2 separate regions of the Homo sapiens genome follow, and region 1 is linked to region 2. Evidence: fine-mapped expression QTL. A gene starts in region 2. The other region holds a variant in brackets. All regions are shown on one strand. Distances are from middle to middle.

Region 1 (8,000 bases), 95 kb before region 2:
TCCTTTCCAGGCTCTTTGCTAATGCCTTTTAACTTTTCTTGCCATATTACACTGGCTAGGACTTCTAATACTGTGCTGAATAGGAGTGGTGAGGCTGGTCACCCTTGGACCTTATCCTGTGGGGAAAGAATTCAGTTTTTCATCATTAAGTATGATGTTAGCTATAGGTTTTTTGTAGATGTTCTTTATCAGGTTGAAGAAGTTTCCTTCAATTCCTAGTTTGAGAGTTTTTATTACAAATGGAGATTGAATTTTATCAAATGCCTTTTCTGCATTAATTGATATAACCATGTGTTTTTCCTTCTTCAGACTATTAATATAGTGAGTTATATTGGTTTTTGAATGTTGAACTTTTCAGTTATATTGGTTTTGAATGTTGAACTTTGGAATGCTTGAATTCCATTCCTCAATTAACCCCACTTCGTCCTGGTGTCTTATATTCTTCGTACCTGGCTAGATCTGATTTCCTCATATTTTGTTGAGGATTTTCGTGCATATATTCATAAGGGATGTTGGTCTCTAGTATTTTTCTCTAGTTTTGGTATCAGAGTGATTGTTGACCTTATAAAATGAGAAGTGCTCGGTCCCCTTTTATTTTTGGAATTCAGTGTATCGAATTGCCATTTCTTTACAAGTTTAGTAAAATTCACCAGTGAAATCATCTGGCTTCAGAAACTGCCTTTTTTGGAAGGGTTTCAACTTCAGCTTATCTATTTAATCTTCAGTGAGTTTTGGTAGTTTTTGGTTTTCAAGCAATTGGTTTATTTCATCCAATTGATTGAATTTAGGTACATAAAGATGTACATAGTATTATTTATTATTATTGTTGGAATATCTTGAAGGGTTTGTGGTGATATACTTTTTCATTCCTGACATTGGTCATTTCTCTTCCCTTTTTTCTTTGATAAGCTTATTGCAAGACTGATAGTTTTATTGATCTCTTCGAAAAACTAGGTTTTGATTGATTTTCCTCTATTTTTGCTTTTTCGTTTGATTTCTGCTCTTTATTTTGGTGACTGTTTCTATGCTACTCGTGAATGGGGTGTTCTACAAGTGTAAATCAAGCTAAGTTGCTTAATGGTGGTGTTCAAGTCTACTGTGTCCTTAATGAAAAGAAGGTCTTAGTTTTAATGTAGTCTAATTTATATTTTATTGTTAGCATTTTGTGTCTTACTACAGTTTTATCCCTAAAGTTTACATAAGCAAGAGTTCAGAGTAATCGACCCTGGTATTTTGATTACTTAATTTTAAATGGGAAGTAAATGTCTCGGGCCAGCAGTGTGCCCAAGGATCCTGAAAAGTAGAGCAAGAATTGTCCCTGACTCAGGGGGAGGCACTCCTTAGCAGACTGTGGAAGTGGCACACTTCAGCCTTGACCTCTTAGTGGTTCCAGGGGTTGGCAGCTTCTAGGAAGACAGCCCCACAGCTCAAAAGGTTTCTTCTCCAGCCAGCCCTGTGTCTGTGTCTCACTAGGAATGGCCCATCGCTGCATCTCCTCCTGTGGCCCTGGTGTCACAGGTTGTAGCCAGAGAGGGGCTTCTTCCCAGGCTGTGAATCCTACTATGGAGGACTTTGGACTCTGCCTGGAACCCTGGCAGGGGTCCACTCTGACCTTCCTTATCTTCGTCTGACCCAGCTGTTACCACCCCTGGTAGCCCTTTTCATAGCTACCGTGGCTGGGTGCAACGGGTACTTTTATCTGACAACTTGGCCAGGCCAAGTTGATTTTCGTCAAACAAACACTGGTCTAGATGGCGCTGTGTAACTAACATGTAAGCCCGTAGACTTGAAGTAAAACAAACAGTTTATCCTTCATAACGTGAGTGGGCCTCATCCGATCAGTTGAGGACTATAAGAGGAAAAGGCTGAACTCCCTTGAGGAGGAGGAAATTCTGCCTCCAGCCTGCATCCCCAGCTCTTCCCTGGGTCTCCAGGATGCTGGCCTGCCCTCAAGATGTTAGACTTGCCAGCCCCCAACATCCTATGAGCCAGTTCCTTAAAACAAATCTCTGCATCTCCCTCCATCCTGTTGGTTCTGTTTCTCTAGTGAGGCCTGACTAGTAAATGGGGGGTTCTAGCTCTGGCCTTATTTCCTGAGAGATGGGGACGGAGTTCCCCTTCTGGTTCCCTTTGGTGGTTCTGGCGTGGCTTCAGGCAGAAGAACAGCATGGAGACCTCTCTCCTCTGCCATCTGTCACGTGGAAGAGCAGATCGGTTTTTGGAAGTCTTTGGGGCAGTGGGAAATCAAGCTTGTCTGCAGGCAGCAGGAGATACTACAGTTCCTGGTTCCGGAGAGAAGGGCCACTTTCTGAGAGAGACTCTTGCTTTGTTGCCCATGCTGCAGTGCAGTGGTACAATCTCCACCTCCTGGACTCAAGCCATTCTCCTGCCTCAGCCTCCCGAGTAGCTGGGATTAACAGGTGTGCATCATCACGCCTGGCAACTGTTTTTTTTTTTTTTTTTAAACTTTTAGTAGAGACAGACAGGGTTTTGCTGTGTTGGCCAGGCTGGCCTCAAGTGATCTGCCTGCCTTGGCCTTGCAAAGTGCTGGGATTACAGGCGTGAGCCACCATGCCCAGCCCTACTCTTTATGTCCAAAAGCCGAGGCCTTCCTGTAGGCCATTCATGATGGATTGCTGCTCACCCCACGTGGCCATTAACACATGGCTGTGGGTTTCCAACCTGGCCCCTTGTATGAAAAACCCTAGGTAAACACATCAAAATAATTATCCCCCGGCATAGCACTTTATTTAAAAGTCCCTCATTTTATGATGAGGAAATGGGGCCTCCAGGAGGGCAATGGGCAGAGTGTGACCATCCTACCCACTGCCTCTCAGGAGCCCCTTGTATCTGCCACGAGTGGCCTGCCTCACTGCAAGCTGTGGCACAGATACGTAGTTAGACATGGTTAATAAAAATCATTGTGATTTAATAAACAGTGTGGTGTTTCTGTACAGGCCCCTCCCTGTCTGTCCCACAGCCAGCGGGAACGCTGGATGGATGTGGGCCTGGGTCCCTGGAGCCCACGAGGTTCCTGCAGCTTTCCTAAGAGGAAAAACTGATCCGGTGATGGAAGGCTGCGGCCTCCTAAAAGTCTCCCCTGACGAGGAGACACGGCAGGGGCCACAGTCACAACCAGATCGAGATGATTAGGGAAGGTGCCGCGGAGTGCGGTCCACTACACATCTTCAGGGTGCATCTGGACTCTCTTGGGGCTGCAACAGTATTTTTCACATAGTTTGAGGAGCTCTGACAAAATGAAGACGGATGAGGCCAATCCAGTTAAAAACAGCAAATCTGCCAAGGGAGAAAACAGAAAAGATTCAGGACGGGCTGCAGCTCTGTTGCGCCGGCAGGAAGCGCCTTCCCTGCCAGTCCTCCTGATAAAGTGAGAGGTGCGGAGGACCAGCCCTTTTCATTCCCCTGAAGGCAGGGAGATCTTCCTAACCCAGAATCCAAAATGCTGCAGTTCCAGAAGGGCCTGCCTGTGGTTCCAGGCAAACACCAGGCAGCTCCAGAGCACAGGGTGGGTCTGGCAGGCAGCTGGGAGCATGTTATGGACTCGGGCTGGAAGGGGAATGAGTTTCCTTTCCCTACAGCAG[C/T]TGTCCCAGTGCCCTGCTGCTTGCAAATGTCCTGAGTGACCAGTCTGGGCTCCCTGTCCAGTGCACCCCGACATGTTCCCTGGGATGAATTCCCAGCGACATGTTCCCTGGGATGAATTCCCAGCGTCTCCCTCTGCTCCTGTCACATGCTGTTTTGAGGAACCATCCCTGGCTCCCTGTTGATGATTCCTGATGTACGGGCTGCCCAAGCACAACCCCTTCAGGCGTGGGAAGCCGACTTCCTTCCCGGCGGGTGGAAACAGCCAGTGAGCAGAGTGTTTTGGGGGGTCCTCTTGTCTGTTCCTACAGGGCATTCACTGGTGACCCACACTGACACTGCTTTTTGGAGGACAAGGCAGAGTTGACCATCCCAGTCTTGCCTGGAGGTCATAGGACCGTTGTCACTGCAGCCTCAGGTCTGATGCATAATCCCATGACCCTCCAGATCTGAGCCATGACCCACTCTGGGCCCTGCCGGCGGGGAGGCGGTGGGCCCATGGGGGCTGCCTCACTGGCCTCCCTCGTCCTCTATTCCGGGTTGGGGTTGGCTCTCAGCACACTGGGGAAAAGGGTGGGGTCGATGACTTGTCCCTGGCTCCCTCCCCTTGCCCCATGCCTGCCATAACCGCAGCTTCAGAGAAAGGTGCCACACTCGCTTGGCTGACAATGTCGGGGAGTCCCCTGGGCTCCACACCAGGGCGTGTGCCCTTGGAAAACCACGGTGACTGAATCATGTCCCTTTCAGCCAAAACTGGAAGACAGCCCAGCTCCCTGCCTTCAGGTGACCAGATCTCTAAGTCACATTACTGGCCCCAGGGTCAAGTCCAGGCTCCCCAGCTGGGGTACCTCCCAGGCTGAGTACAGGCCTTGCTCCCTCCTTCCTCCCTGCACGTGCTCTGAGCCTCCAGCCCGACGCCTGGGATGCCGGTGCCCCTTGGGCCCCAGACCCTACTACTCTTGAGTGACAGGCCTCTTCCTAGGGGTTTCTGTGCATCCGTCACATCACCCACGTTAGAGTCCCTTCCTGTGAGGACAGAAGGGCCCTGAAGACAGAGCCGGCCCCTGGTGAGCTCTGCTTTCCCGCACTGACCCCTCCTGGGCTGCAGCTCCCCACCTGGCAGCTGCCGCCCCCCATGGCCCTGGTCGAGGTCACCTGTCGTTCCCGTCCCCACCACTCACCAAGCGCTCCCAGGTTCTCCGTCTGGAAGACCCTCTGCAGCGGGGGGATGTAAATGACCGCCAGCTGCCCCAGGATGGACCCCAGGACGGAGTAGAGGAACATGTGGTTCCTGAGAAAGCCGATCTCAAATATCAGCTTGGTCTGCAGGGAGAAGGTCACACGGGGGATTGTGTGCTGTCCACACCCCAGGTACAGGCAGGGGAGCTCTGACTGCCCACGCTGAGCCAGAGCCGCTCAATGCTGCGGGCAGGGTCGGGGCGCTGCTGTCGAGAACACACAGCAGCTCTGCAGCGAGGAGGGTCAGCCCGGGTCTCACCTGAGAGCGGCAGGTCAAGGCGTTGAAGAGATCGAAAAACACAAAACAAGTGAACGTCATCGTCGTGGTGCGGGGAGTGCTTGCTCTGTCTTCAGGCATCTGGAAGGTGAGCACAAAGGTGAGAGGTTAGGCGGGAAGAGACAACCTCCATCCTGAACCAAAGGGCACAGGCCTGCCTCACTGCTCCTGGGGCATGGCTGGGAGCCACTTACAAGCTCATGAATCGGTCACACAGCTTCCTCCAGGTGTGAGGTCAGTGGCTGCTACCCCAGGGTCTCCCCAGCACATGCTGATTTGCTGCCACCATGAGGATGGGGGCAGGGCACCTATGGGTGGAGGAAACACCACTTCCTCCAGGAAGTAACTGTCTCCCTGGGAGGTGATGCCACTCCAGTTAAACCCAGAGTGAAGGTCATTTCCTACAAGGAAGGCTGAAGGATGGCCGTCAGTAGTAGAGGGAGAGCTGGAGGGAAAATGGAGGCAGGGTACCCGGCCAGGGTCCCCTCCCGCTTCCTGCACATGGGCAATCTGTGGTGTGGTCACATGGGTCACCTGCCTCATTTCCCACCTAGATCGTGGCCCGTCCTGGCATAGAGCTCCCTGAACCTGCAGGCCATGAAAAGGTGACCCAGGCCTAGATCCAAAGCAAACAATCACCTCTAGAGTGTAACACAGGAGGATATTTAGCAGATTTCAAATTGTTTCCTGGTGACAAGGGAACAGGGGGCAGCCTGTCCTCATGTACATTTCAACTCCCGTCTCGGCAAAGTCATCTCCACCCCGCTGGCCTCTGTAGTTCCCAGGCACACACCTGGCGACCTCCCTTCTTTCAAGGGTCACCCAGTCCCTTTGCCTCATGCACCCCACGCCTCTGATGGCATCACATTGTCCGGTGTGTGTACATGTTTGCCTCTCCCAGATGTGAGCTGTGGCAGGAGGGCAGGGACTGCAGTCCCCAGCGTCTGCACCGCACCAGGGCTTGGAGAACAGGCCGGGGTGACCCTCGCTCACCTCCTTCCAGAAGATAAAGAGGGTCCCGCTGATGATGATGGCCGCGGACATGAGGATCTTCAGGATGAGGGCTCTGCTGAGGATGGTGTCCCGCACACTCCGTGGTGGCTGCCTGAAGGCGTCTTTGTCAACGGGCTCTACCCCCAAGCTGCTCCGAACAAGACACAGACACTTTGAAATGAACCAGGAATGAAATAAAGGACCCTTGAAACAGCTGTGCCTGAGCCTCCCAGGCCAAGTTGGCACAGGGGGCAGGGCCAGGCATTTGCTGAACGCCCCCAGGCATCGCACCTGCCCTCCTCGGCACCTTCCAGAAGCCCCAGAGCCTGGGTCCATGGGCAGCTGTGCCCCTCCATCTGTCCCGCAGACAGTGAAGGAAGACCACCCCGTAAGGCCAACCACACACAGTTCCATACACCCAGATGATCTCCATCACCCCGAGGGGACCCCCCCCAACGTTGCGCCTGGAGAAACAGGCTCCAGGCTCCGCCCTCCGCAGAGCCCCTCATCAGCTGAGAGAGACCAGCCTCCAGCCAACTCCACACAGCAGGGTTGAGGCTAGACCCGCAGCAGGCGGTATGGTGGGAGTGGCCGGGTGAGGCCCTGCCGCTCAGACACAGCTGAGGCCAGCTTCCTGGTCCCACTTCTGCTCCCAGGGAGGGCTGGCAGGAGAGGTAACCCTCACACTTGGCTTTGGGGACACAAATGAGGACTCTCTTTCCCTTGGCAGCTATCACTGGTGATAACAGCAGCACTGAGCTCCAGCGGAAGCACTGGCTCTGTGCTCATACGGTTACGCACACGTGGCCAGATGGGTCCCCTGACTCCAAAGCGCATTCCTTCCCCCACACCACTTGGCCAGCTTGTTGAAGGGGATATTAAGTGGCGGAGCGGGTGGACTCCTGAGCACCTACTGAGTGGCAAGCCCTTTATCTCTAGACATCAGGGATGAAACACAAACTCCGCCTCCATGAAACTGATGTTCTAAAGGGGAGACAGATCACAATCAGATCCATAAGGAAAAGTGTGTCTGTGTGTATCTTCCTCTCTAGGGAAAAATACAGCAGGGTGAGGGGATTGAGTGGGAGTGCAATCAGGGAAGACTTCCTGAAGGCAGTGACTGGTGACTGGAATGAAGCATGAGAATGAGCCATGCAGGTTGCCCAGAGAGAGCATCCAGGCAGAGGGAGCAGAAAGTTCCATCCTCACCCAGCTCTGCCGGCCCAGGTACTTTCTCCTCTGCCTTCTACTCCCAGTCTCACTGCAGTGCAACACACTTCAGTTTTCTGGGAACTCCTGATGGAAAGTGGCTGTATTTGTTCATCCCTATAGCCTTGGGGCACAGCCAGCAGCCCCTGGAGGAAGCCCCGCAGGTGGGTAAAGAGACACAGGGCTCCCAGCCGGCCCTGCCTCACCTCTGCGCCGGTGGCCCATCCATGATGATGTTGATCCATAGGATCTGCATGGCGTTGAGGGGGCTGGGCAGGTTGAACACGGTGGACAGAGTGATGAGACTCAGGGCGGAGATGCTCCTGCGGGGCACACGCAGCCAGTCAGCGGCCGCCCGCCAGGCGTGGTGCTTAATGACACTCGGAATGCTGGCCTCTACTTACGTGCTCAGCTGGAATCGGACAAAGTTTTTGATGTTGTAAAAAATACCCTTGCCTTCCTCCACTGCATTCCTGCAAGAGAAGAGAGCCATTTACTCACGGAGCGGGCCTGCGTGAGGGCTGGACCAGTGCATCGGTTGCTGCAAGGGGCAGTGGTGACTCGCCCAGATTGATGTTATACTTGGGCCCCTGCTGGTTCCCCTTGCTGGCATTCTTGGGGACACATTTGTAGGAGACGGTGGTGTTCTAACAGGTGCCCCTCGGCCACTGGGAACTGATCC
Region 2 (8,000 bases):
CCCTTCATCCAGCTCACCCTTTGCCACTCCTATTCATCTTAAACATCACGTCTTTCTCCCAGCTCTGACACGTTGGCATTAAACAGTGAACTGTGACCAGTTGCTGGGTGCCTGTCTCTGCCTCCTGGTTGGGATACCTGAGGGTAGAGAACTGTGCATCCTTATCAGCCCCAACTCCAGCTGGTAGCACTCACTTGACACACAGAGGGAGCCCCCTCCGTGAATCTAGGTTGAATGGATGGGTGGTCACTACATTCGTCTGTTGGGATCCAAGCCTCACCCTGGAGAGCCCAGAAGGATGCATCTGCTCACCAGCCAGGAAGGCAGTGGGCTGGGGCTATACCTGCCTCACTTAAGAGATGGGAGCCCTGAGGGGCAGAGACAGCTTCCCCCGGAGTTGGCGCTGAGTCACCTGGGAAGCAGGAATTTCTGCTCCAATCTCTTCCTTACCCTAATGTTCAGGTCAGCAGTGAGAAGCTTTTTCTAGTAACTAAATTAAGGAGGCCTCTCAAAGACCTTTTTGTTGTTGTTTTGTTTTGAGACAGGGTCTCACTCTGTTGCCCAGGCTGGAGCACAGTGGCATGATCACAACTCACTGCAGCCTTGACCTCCCAGGTGCAAGCAATCCTCCTGCTTCAGCTTGGTGAGTAGCTAGGACCACAGGTGCACACCACCACGCCTAATTTTTTGCAGAGATGGCATCTGGCTATGTTGCCCAGGCTGATCTTGAACTCTGGGGTTCAAGTGACCCTCCTGCCTCAGTCTTCCAAAGTGTGGGGATGACAGGCATGAGCCACTGCGCCCGGCTCAAACACCTTTCTTTCCATTCCTGGAAATGCTGAAATCCAGTCTCCAGTGCTTCTAACATGGGGTCGTCTCCAGTTCCCCTCTCAACCACCAGTCCTCTGTCTGGTCCTCTACTCTTTGATTCTCCAGTGCACCTGAGACCACTGGGTCTCAAATAAAGCATCTCCCAGTTTCTCAGCTGACCATTGGCCTCCTTTATGAACTTTGTTTTGTACACATCTGTATCCTCAGCGCCTAGCAAAACTGGCTGTCAGGAAATGCTCACTGAGCAAACAAACGTGGCCCCACTAGGAGCCTCACATCCTCATTGATCACATGACGAGAGTAAAATTTACCTTGGAGGTAAGAGGCCCAAGAGAAGACACAGCAAGTTCTCAGTAACAATCACTATTAGAACTGGGGTAACTGGTCAAAGTGGCTGGGGGAGGGGAGGGCTTAGAGGCCTCCTACAGGCATCCTGGATGTGGCATGTAATTAGTGCTCATAAAAGACGGTTCTATTGAGGAGTGAAAATGGAACCCCTAAATAAACTAGTATGAAATAACGCAAAAAAAAAAAAAGACAATTCCAACTATTGTAGAAGTGATCACCTCAACACACATCGCCTCCTTTCCAAACCCTGGGAGAAAGGAGTTCCAACGAGAGGACATGAGTATGACAGCAAAGGAGGTGTTCAGGTCTGAGCCAACCTGGCAGGAAGTGAGTGCCTCGCCCAGCCACCCGGCCTCCCCACCTCCCTCCCTCCTCACACTTCCCATCGATCTTCATTGCCATTTCCTGGGTTTGCACATTTCCTGGGTTTGCACAAGGCTGCCTCTGGAGACAGCATGGCTTCTTTCTCAGCTGGCCTTTGGTGTCAGTGCTGGTATCACCCGCCTCCTGGCGCTGCACACTGCCCATCATCACGCACCCAGGGCCTCAGGATGCTGCTGAGAGCACCCCGGTCCACAGCCAGGTGGGAGAGCACACTGACAGACCGGCTGAACACCTGTCAGACCTCTGAGAACTCTCCTGCAAAGCTTTGGAGGGACGAGTCCACCTGGCACAGAGATCAAACTCTCCCAGCATCTCCCTTGAGGTTACATCATCCATGCACCTGCATTCCTGGACATCCTGTGAAACCTGATGGTAACCAACTACACACCAGGAGAGTTTGAAAAATACCTGGCCTGATGCAAGAATCAAAAGATGGAAAGGAAAAAACAGGAATGGCAACATAGGAAAGGCAACCTGTGATGGCAAATAAACTTCAAACTCCTTTAGCAGAATGTATCGCAGAAGCAGAGAAATGGATCACAGCCAATTAATTGAACTCTATATCCTATCAATATTAACATGCCACTTCAGAAAAATCGAGATTGCTCAAAAACTGCTAGTTACGTGGTCCTGTGGCCTACCACCCTAAGACCAGAATTCTTACATCAACAGGGATGTATAAAACACTATTTTTAAAAAAGCACAAAACACTATTTTTAAAAAAGCACGAATACTTAATCTCACAAACAAAATGTTTTGACCATTAGTATTCTTTGGGAGAAAAAAATAAAATTTTAAGTCAAATATTTTTTCAGCTAATTTCTTTTTTTAATTAAAAGGTAAGTTTACCTTTGAAGTTTCCTTTCACTGGTCAAAAGGCCATCGCCAAGTCATATTTCTAATTAGCAACCCAGGGGACTCGTTCAGAAATGTTACTTTTGAACGACTGCTTAAGCGTAAATGAAAAAAAAAAAAGTGCAACGACCCTCTGGCGTGCAGAGAAACGCTTCTGCAGAAATTCAGTGCCCCCCTGACCTTAAAGCATGCAACGAGTTCTGTTTGCGAAGCTAAAAAGAAGGGTGTTGGGTCACCCTCAAGCCTGGCTTCACCCCTGGCTTCCAAGAATCCAAGGAACAGGAGGGGCTTTATTTGACAGCTTTGCCACTTCGTTCCCTCATGAACCGCCCTGCCCTGGCACCCTGCTGCTTTATCCCAGAGGGTCCCTGAAGGTTGCAAAGCAGGCATACAGCTCTGAGTGACTTTCTAAAAGTACCTGACTGTAGGAAGTGAGGCTGGGAGGTCCCTCAGCTCCAACTTTGCTTTCTATTATTGCTACAACATTTCAGCAATCTTTTGTTTTTTGCATCCCTCTAATTTTATTTTCCAATTTAAGTTTTAAAAATCCATAAAGCAGCCCAAGTCTGGAGACCCAGGAATTTTAATTCTCTGGAGTCAGAGAAACCTAGGTTAAGTTCCCAGCCAGGTCACTTCCTAGCTCCGTGCCCCTTAGGGAATATACTTAACCACTCTCGGCCTCAGTTTCTCAACCACAAAATGGGTTCACGTGAGGGTTCCATGCTGAGCTCCCCGCGCCAGAGCGCAGATGAGAGCGCGGTTGCTGTGAGGACAGCTTCTTTCCAGAGCCAGGGGAGGAGGGCGAGTTCGCGGATCGCAGCGCGAACGCGGGGTCTCGGGCCGGGGACGGTTACGACGGAGGGGATGGGGGGTCGGGTCGCACGCCCGGCGCGGAGTCGCGGGGACTCACCAAGGCTTCCTCTTCGTCCTTCTCCAGCGCCTGGTACTGGCGGCCCCCGCCCGAGAAGCCGAGTTTCTTCAGGAACTCGGAGACGCGTCCCTCGACCATGGTGAGCGGGCGCAGGCGTTGCCTGCGTCCCTAGGTCCCCGGCGAGGCCCGGGATGGCTGCGCGCGCCCAAGCCTCCTGGGCCGGACCCGGTTACCAGGTAGCTGTCTACCTGCCCGCGGCAGGTGAGGCCCCGCCCCTGGGGCGGGGCTGCGCACAGGGAGGTGCCGGCTCACCCGGCCCCGCCCCGCGAGCTCGCCTGGGACCCCAGGGGCTCTGGGGACAGCGCCGGCTGGCCATGAAAGGCCCAGGGAGAGGCTGCGTCGCCTCAGGGCTTGGGCTGTTTCCCAAACTTACAGATCCTAAGAATCACCTGGAGTGGGGGAGGTGGAGGAGCAAATGCTGGTTTAAAATCCGGATTCCCAGACCCCTCCCTGCCCAGTCACGGTTTGGAGCCGCCGGGAGCTGGGTTTTTAACGAGCCCCAGGTGATCCTCTTGAGGAACCCAGGGTGGGCGGCTCTAAGGCGCCGGGAGCGAGGTGGCTGGAGCTCAGTCAGACTCACACCTGCGGCTGTGCACTCTGGACGGGTCACGTGGCCTTTCTGAGCCTCGGCAACCTAGCCTGTCATTGAGCGGGGAGCAGCAGAAGGCTAAGACCCCCACCTCCAGGGCCCTGGGAGTGAGTCCAGGAACAGGAGCGACTGAGAGCCCTGCTGCCTTTGGCGCCTGCATGGTCTCGGATGGTCAGGGCCCCTGTCCTCGTCTGCAGGATGAGCGCCGCTCTTGCTCGTCGTGGGACCTGAGCAGGTTTCTTATATTTTTAGCGCCTTGGTTTACTGCTCTGCAGAATGGCCACCACGATAGCGCCTCCTTCACAGTGACATGGAGAGGCCCCAGCGGACAGTGCTGTACAGGAAGGTCTCGAGCAGGGCTTGGAGTAGAGAATGTGCTGGTGTCCCCATGACACCATCCTCCTCCTCTTCATCATCAGAAGGTGCTGGGCTCAAATGGCTCCCAAAGTATGTGAGTCCATACGCAGTGTAGACAGTTGCCAGCAGCCAAGTGGGTGCTTTGAAGTTCCAGGGCTTTCTTTGGCTTCAGGTAGGACTAGATCCGTAACTAGACCCACCACTTAGCAGAGGGGGAGCTCTGGGGAAGTCCGTGCCACCCGCCTTTCCGCTGGCTTCCTCATCTCTACAGGGAAGTTACTCACGGGCTACAGGAGGTGCCCTCTGCATTTGTCCACGAAATTCAGCCACCCCTTTTGAGCAAATATTTGCCACCTACCTCAATTGCTCCCGAGGGTTGACTCCAGGCCACGAAAACCTGCAGGGCAGTTCCAGTGCCCCTTCTTGTATCTCCTGCATCTTCCTCTTTCAAGGAAACAAAGGCTACGGTATCAGCCTGGCCCCACTCCCCAGTTTCAACAAAGGTGCAGGAATAATGGTAACAGCAAACCTCTGATGTGAGTGAGTCCAGATTTGAATCCCAGGAATGTTCCTTTCCGACCTTGGGCAATTTTCTTCACCTCTCTCCACCTCAGTTTACTCATCCATAAAATGGGGATGTCACTACCTACCCGTAGGAGTCAGGGTCCCAGTAGGAAATAGTAATTTGAGGAGAGTTTGAGAAACAGACTTTTTACAAAGCTGTGGGGAAGACGTAGAGAAACCAGAAGTGCTTGTGTCATTAACGAAGACTAGCAAAGAGTGAGAAGTGGCTTTGGTCCCACCCAAGGCCTGAAGGGCCAGACGAGAGAGGAGTTACCTGGAGGGGGAGCTCTGGGGCACTGATAACTTCTGCAGAGGGCAACTGCTTAGATCAAAAGCCAGAAAGCAACAGAGCGCCAAGGATGCAGCCTCCTGGGCAGAGAATCCAAAGAAGGGTGGAGAGTGGTGTAGAGGAGGCTGGGCAAGGTGGCTCACACCTCTAATCCCAGCACTTTGAGAGGCCAAGGTGGGCGGATCACCTGAGGTCAGGAGTTCGAGTCCAGCCTGGCCAACATGGGGAAACCCTGTCACTAGTAAAAATAGAAAAATTAGCCAGGTGTGCTGGCATGCGCCTGTAATCCCAGCTACTTCGGAGGCTGAGGCAGGAGAATCGCTTGAACCCGGAAGGTGGAGGTTGCAGGGAGCCAAGATTGTGCCACTGCACTCCAGCCTGGGCAGTAGAGCAAGACTTCATGTCAAACAAACAAAAAAAAAAGAGTGTTGTAGAGGAACAAGGAGGAGACATCCCGCAGCCAACCTCAGCATCCTGTGGTTCAGGCTGAGTGAATGCTTGCACAGGTATGATGTAGTAGTACGATGTCGTGGTACCCGACATTGCAGGCTCTCAGGCGCTTCTATATTATTAATATAAAAGAACATATGGGAACTTGGCTCAGTTATTTCTCAGGTCCTTCCCAAGTGGCATTCTGTGATTTTAAAATGATGTTGGATCCAGGGAAGAAGAACGCCTTGTTGGCATCTTCATGTTTTTCCAAGCTGTTAACCAGATGTCATCTCTCCAGGCAGATCAGCATCCCCGGAGCAGAGGATTTGAAAGCCCAGCCTTTCGGATCCTATCACCATGGCTTCCGCTCCAGCCCAGAGATGTCAAGGCTGGAATTCCTGGGCTAGGTTCGAAAATGCCCAGGGCATTCCAGAAGGAAACTCTAGGTGGTGGATATATGCATGTACATTTTAGAGACAAGGTCTCACTCTGTAGTCCAGGCTGGAGGGCACTGGCGCGATCATAGTTCACTGTAGGCTTGAACTCCTGGGTTCAAGCAATACTCCCTCCTGAGTAGCTGGGACTACAGGTGCACAGAACCACACCCAGCTAATTTTCTAATTTTTATTTTTATGTAGAGATGGGGTCTTTGCTCTGTTGCCCAGGCCTATAAATTAGATTTGTGGTGTGTAAAATTAGGTAAATTAGGCTCCACCAGTGTTGGTTATGGTAAATGATGTGCCTGAAACATGGCAAATACTCCAAAAAATTTTTGAATATGTCTCCCATAAACAGCAGATCATTCAAATTTATATTTAACAGAACTTTCATATGAACGATTTGCTTTATAATAGGGAAATGTAGGCCGGGCGCAGTGGCTCATGCCTGTAATCCCAGCACTTTGGGAGGCTGAGGCAGGCGGATCATGAGGTCAGGAGATTGACACCATCCTGGCAAACACGGTGAAACCTCGTCTCTATTAAAAATACAAAAAATTAGCCAGGCGTGGTGGCGGGCGCCTGTAGTCCCAGCTACTCGGGAGGCTGAGGCAGGAGAATGGCGTGAACCCGGGAGGCGGAGCTTGCAGTGAGCCGAGATCGCGCCACTGCACTCCAGCCCGGGGAACACAGCGAGACTCCGTCTCAAAAAAAAAAAAAAAAAAAAATAGGGAAATGTATTGTGTTTACATTGTTATAGTTGTCATTGTTAGATTGACTTCTGTCATCCTCTTTCATGTTTCATTTCTGTGCCTTTTGAGGCAAGCACTCAATTTGCTGTCAATTTTTACTTTGGTTTTGGAATAAACATCTCATTGAAAGTTCTATTGGGAGCTACCTGAAAACACTTCAGAAATACAGATGAGTATTTACAGTCTCTTTTGGTTTCCTTTTCCAGATTTAAAGAAATTTTCCAACTTTAATTTTTGTTTTTCTAACCTCTGCATCCTTTTATATTCTAAGTAAGTTAATTATCCAAACTCTCTCTTTTTTTTTTTTTTTTTTTTTTGAGACAGAGTCTTGCTCTATTGCCCAGGCTGGAGTACAGTGGCACCATCTCGGCTTGCTGCAACCTCCACCTTCTGGGTTCAAGCGATTCTCGTGCCTCAGCCTCCAGATTAGCTGGGACTACAGGCATGCGCCACCATGCCTAGCTAATTTTTTTTTTTTTTTTTTTTTTTTTTAGTAGAGACAGGGTTTTGCCATGTTGACCAGGCTGGTCTTGAACTTCTGACCTCAAGTGATCTATCGGCCTGCCTCAGCCTCCCAAAGTGCTGGGATTACAGGTTTGAGCCACCGTGCCCGGCCCAAGCTCTTACCTTCTGAGTTGGTTGTTGTTGTTGTTGTTGTGTGTTGTTGTTTCCCCGTCAGTTACACCTGCTATTTATGTTTGCCTTAAACGACCTTTCTGAGCTCTGTCTGTCACTTTGTTTGGATTCCGTGGTCATCCCCACAGACTTCAAGATTCTGTTTTTTCAAGTTTTTTGTTTATTTTTTCTGCCTTCAGCCTGTAAAATGCTAGAGCCCACTTGCAAAGAATCTAACAAGGCAGTTGGCTGGAGAACTTTCTGGGGTTTGCGGCTCAACGCCTCAGAGTGATTCTGCCCTATTGGCCAACGATGAACGCCAAGGGTGGGACCCAACCAGAGGCATCCAGCCTTTCTCAAAATGTCTGCTCTGGGCACCTTGAACAATGAGGTCATGCTCTGCAACTCCCATTCACTCTCTATGTCAGAGTCGTGTCTTTTCACTGCCCACAAATTATCCCCAGCAATGCGCCCTGCTGGGAGCCAGGATGCAACCTCAAGACACCTGTATTTTGTTTGGTAACAAACTTCACTCAAAAGTTCTCTAAGCGTGGCACTGAAGACATCCTTTTTGGAAAGGGTACACTGTACAAAAGTATATTTTGTACAATTTGTT

What was found.
Region 1: its variant is fine-mapped to the expression of ATP2C2 in whole blood (TOPMed, PIP 0.94).

What each region holds. Positions count from the first base shown.
Region 1 is chr16:84,458,911-84,466,910 of GRCh38, reverse strand. It overlaps ATP2C2 (ATPase secretory pathway Ca2+ transporting 2), which reads right to left. Exons shown (of 27, transcript NM_014861.4): 22 at 7,723-7,791; 23 at 7,525-7,641; 24 at 6,110-6,257; 25 at 5,099-5,197; 26 at 4,782-4,923; 27 at 2,724-3,297. The coding sequence ends at 3,179. It overlaps ATP2C2-AS1 (ATP2C2 antisense RNA 1), which reads left to right. Exons shown (of 3, transcript NR_146503.1): 2 at 3,912-5,216; 3 at 6,018-7,652. Among named protein-coding and RNA genes, the nearest start is that of ATP2C2-AS1, 4.4 kb to the left of the region's middle. RefSeq lists enhancers at 4,756-5,955, 7,311-7,810. The variant C/T (reference allele first, on the strand shown) is at 3,603.
Region 2 is chr16:84,364,043-84,372,042 of GRCh38, reverse strand. It overlaps ATP2C2 (ATPase secretory pathway Ca2+ transporting 2), which reads right to left and starts at 3,505. Exons shown (of 27, transcript NM_014861.4): 1 at 3,329-3,505. The coding sequence starts at 3,427.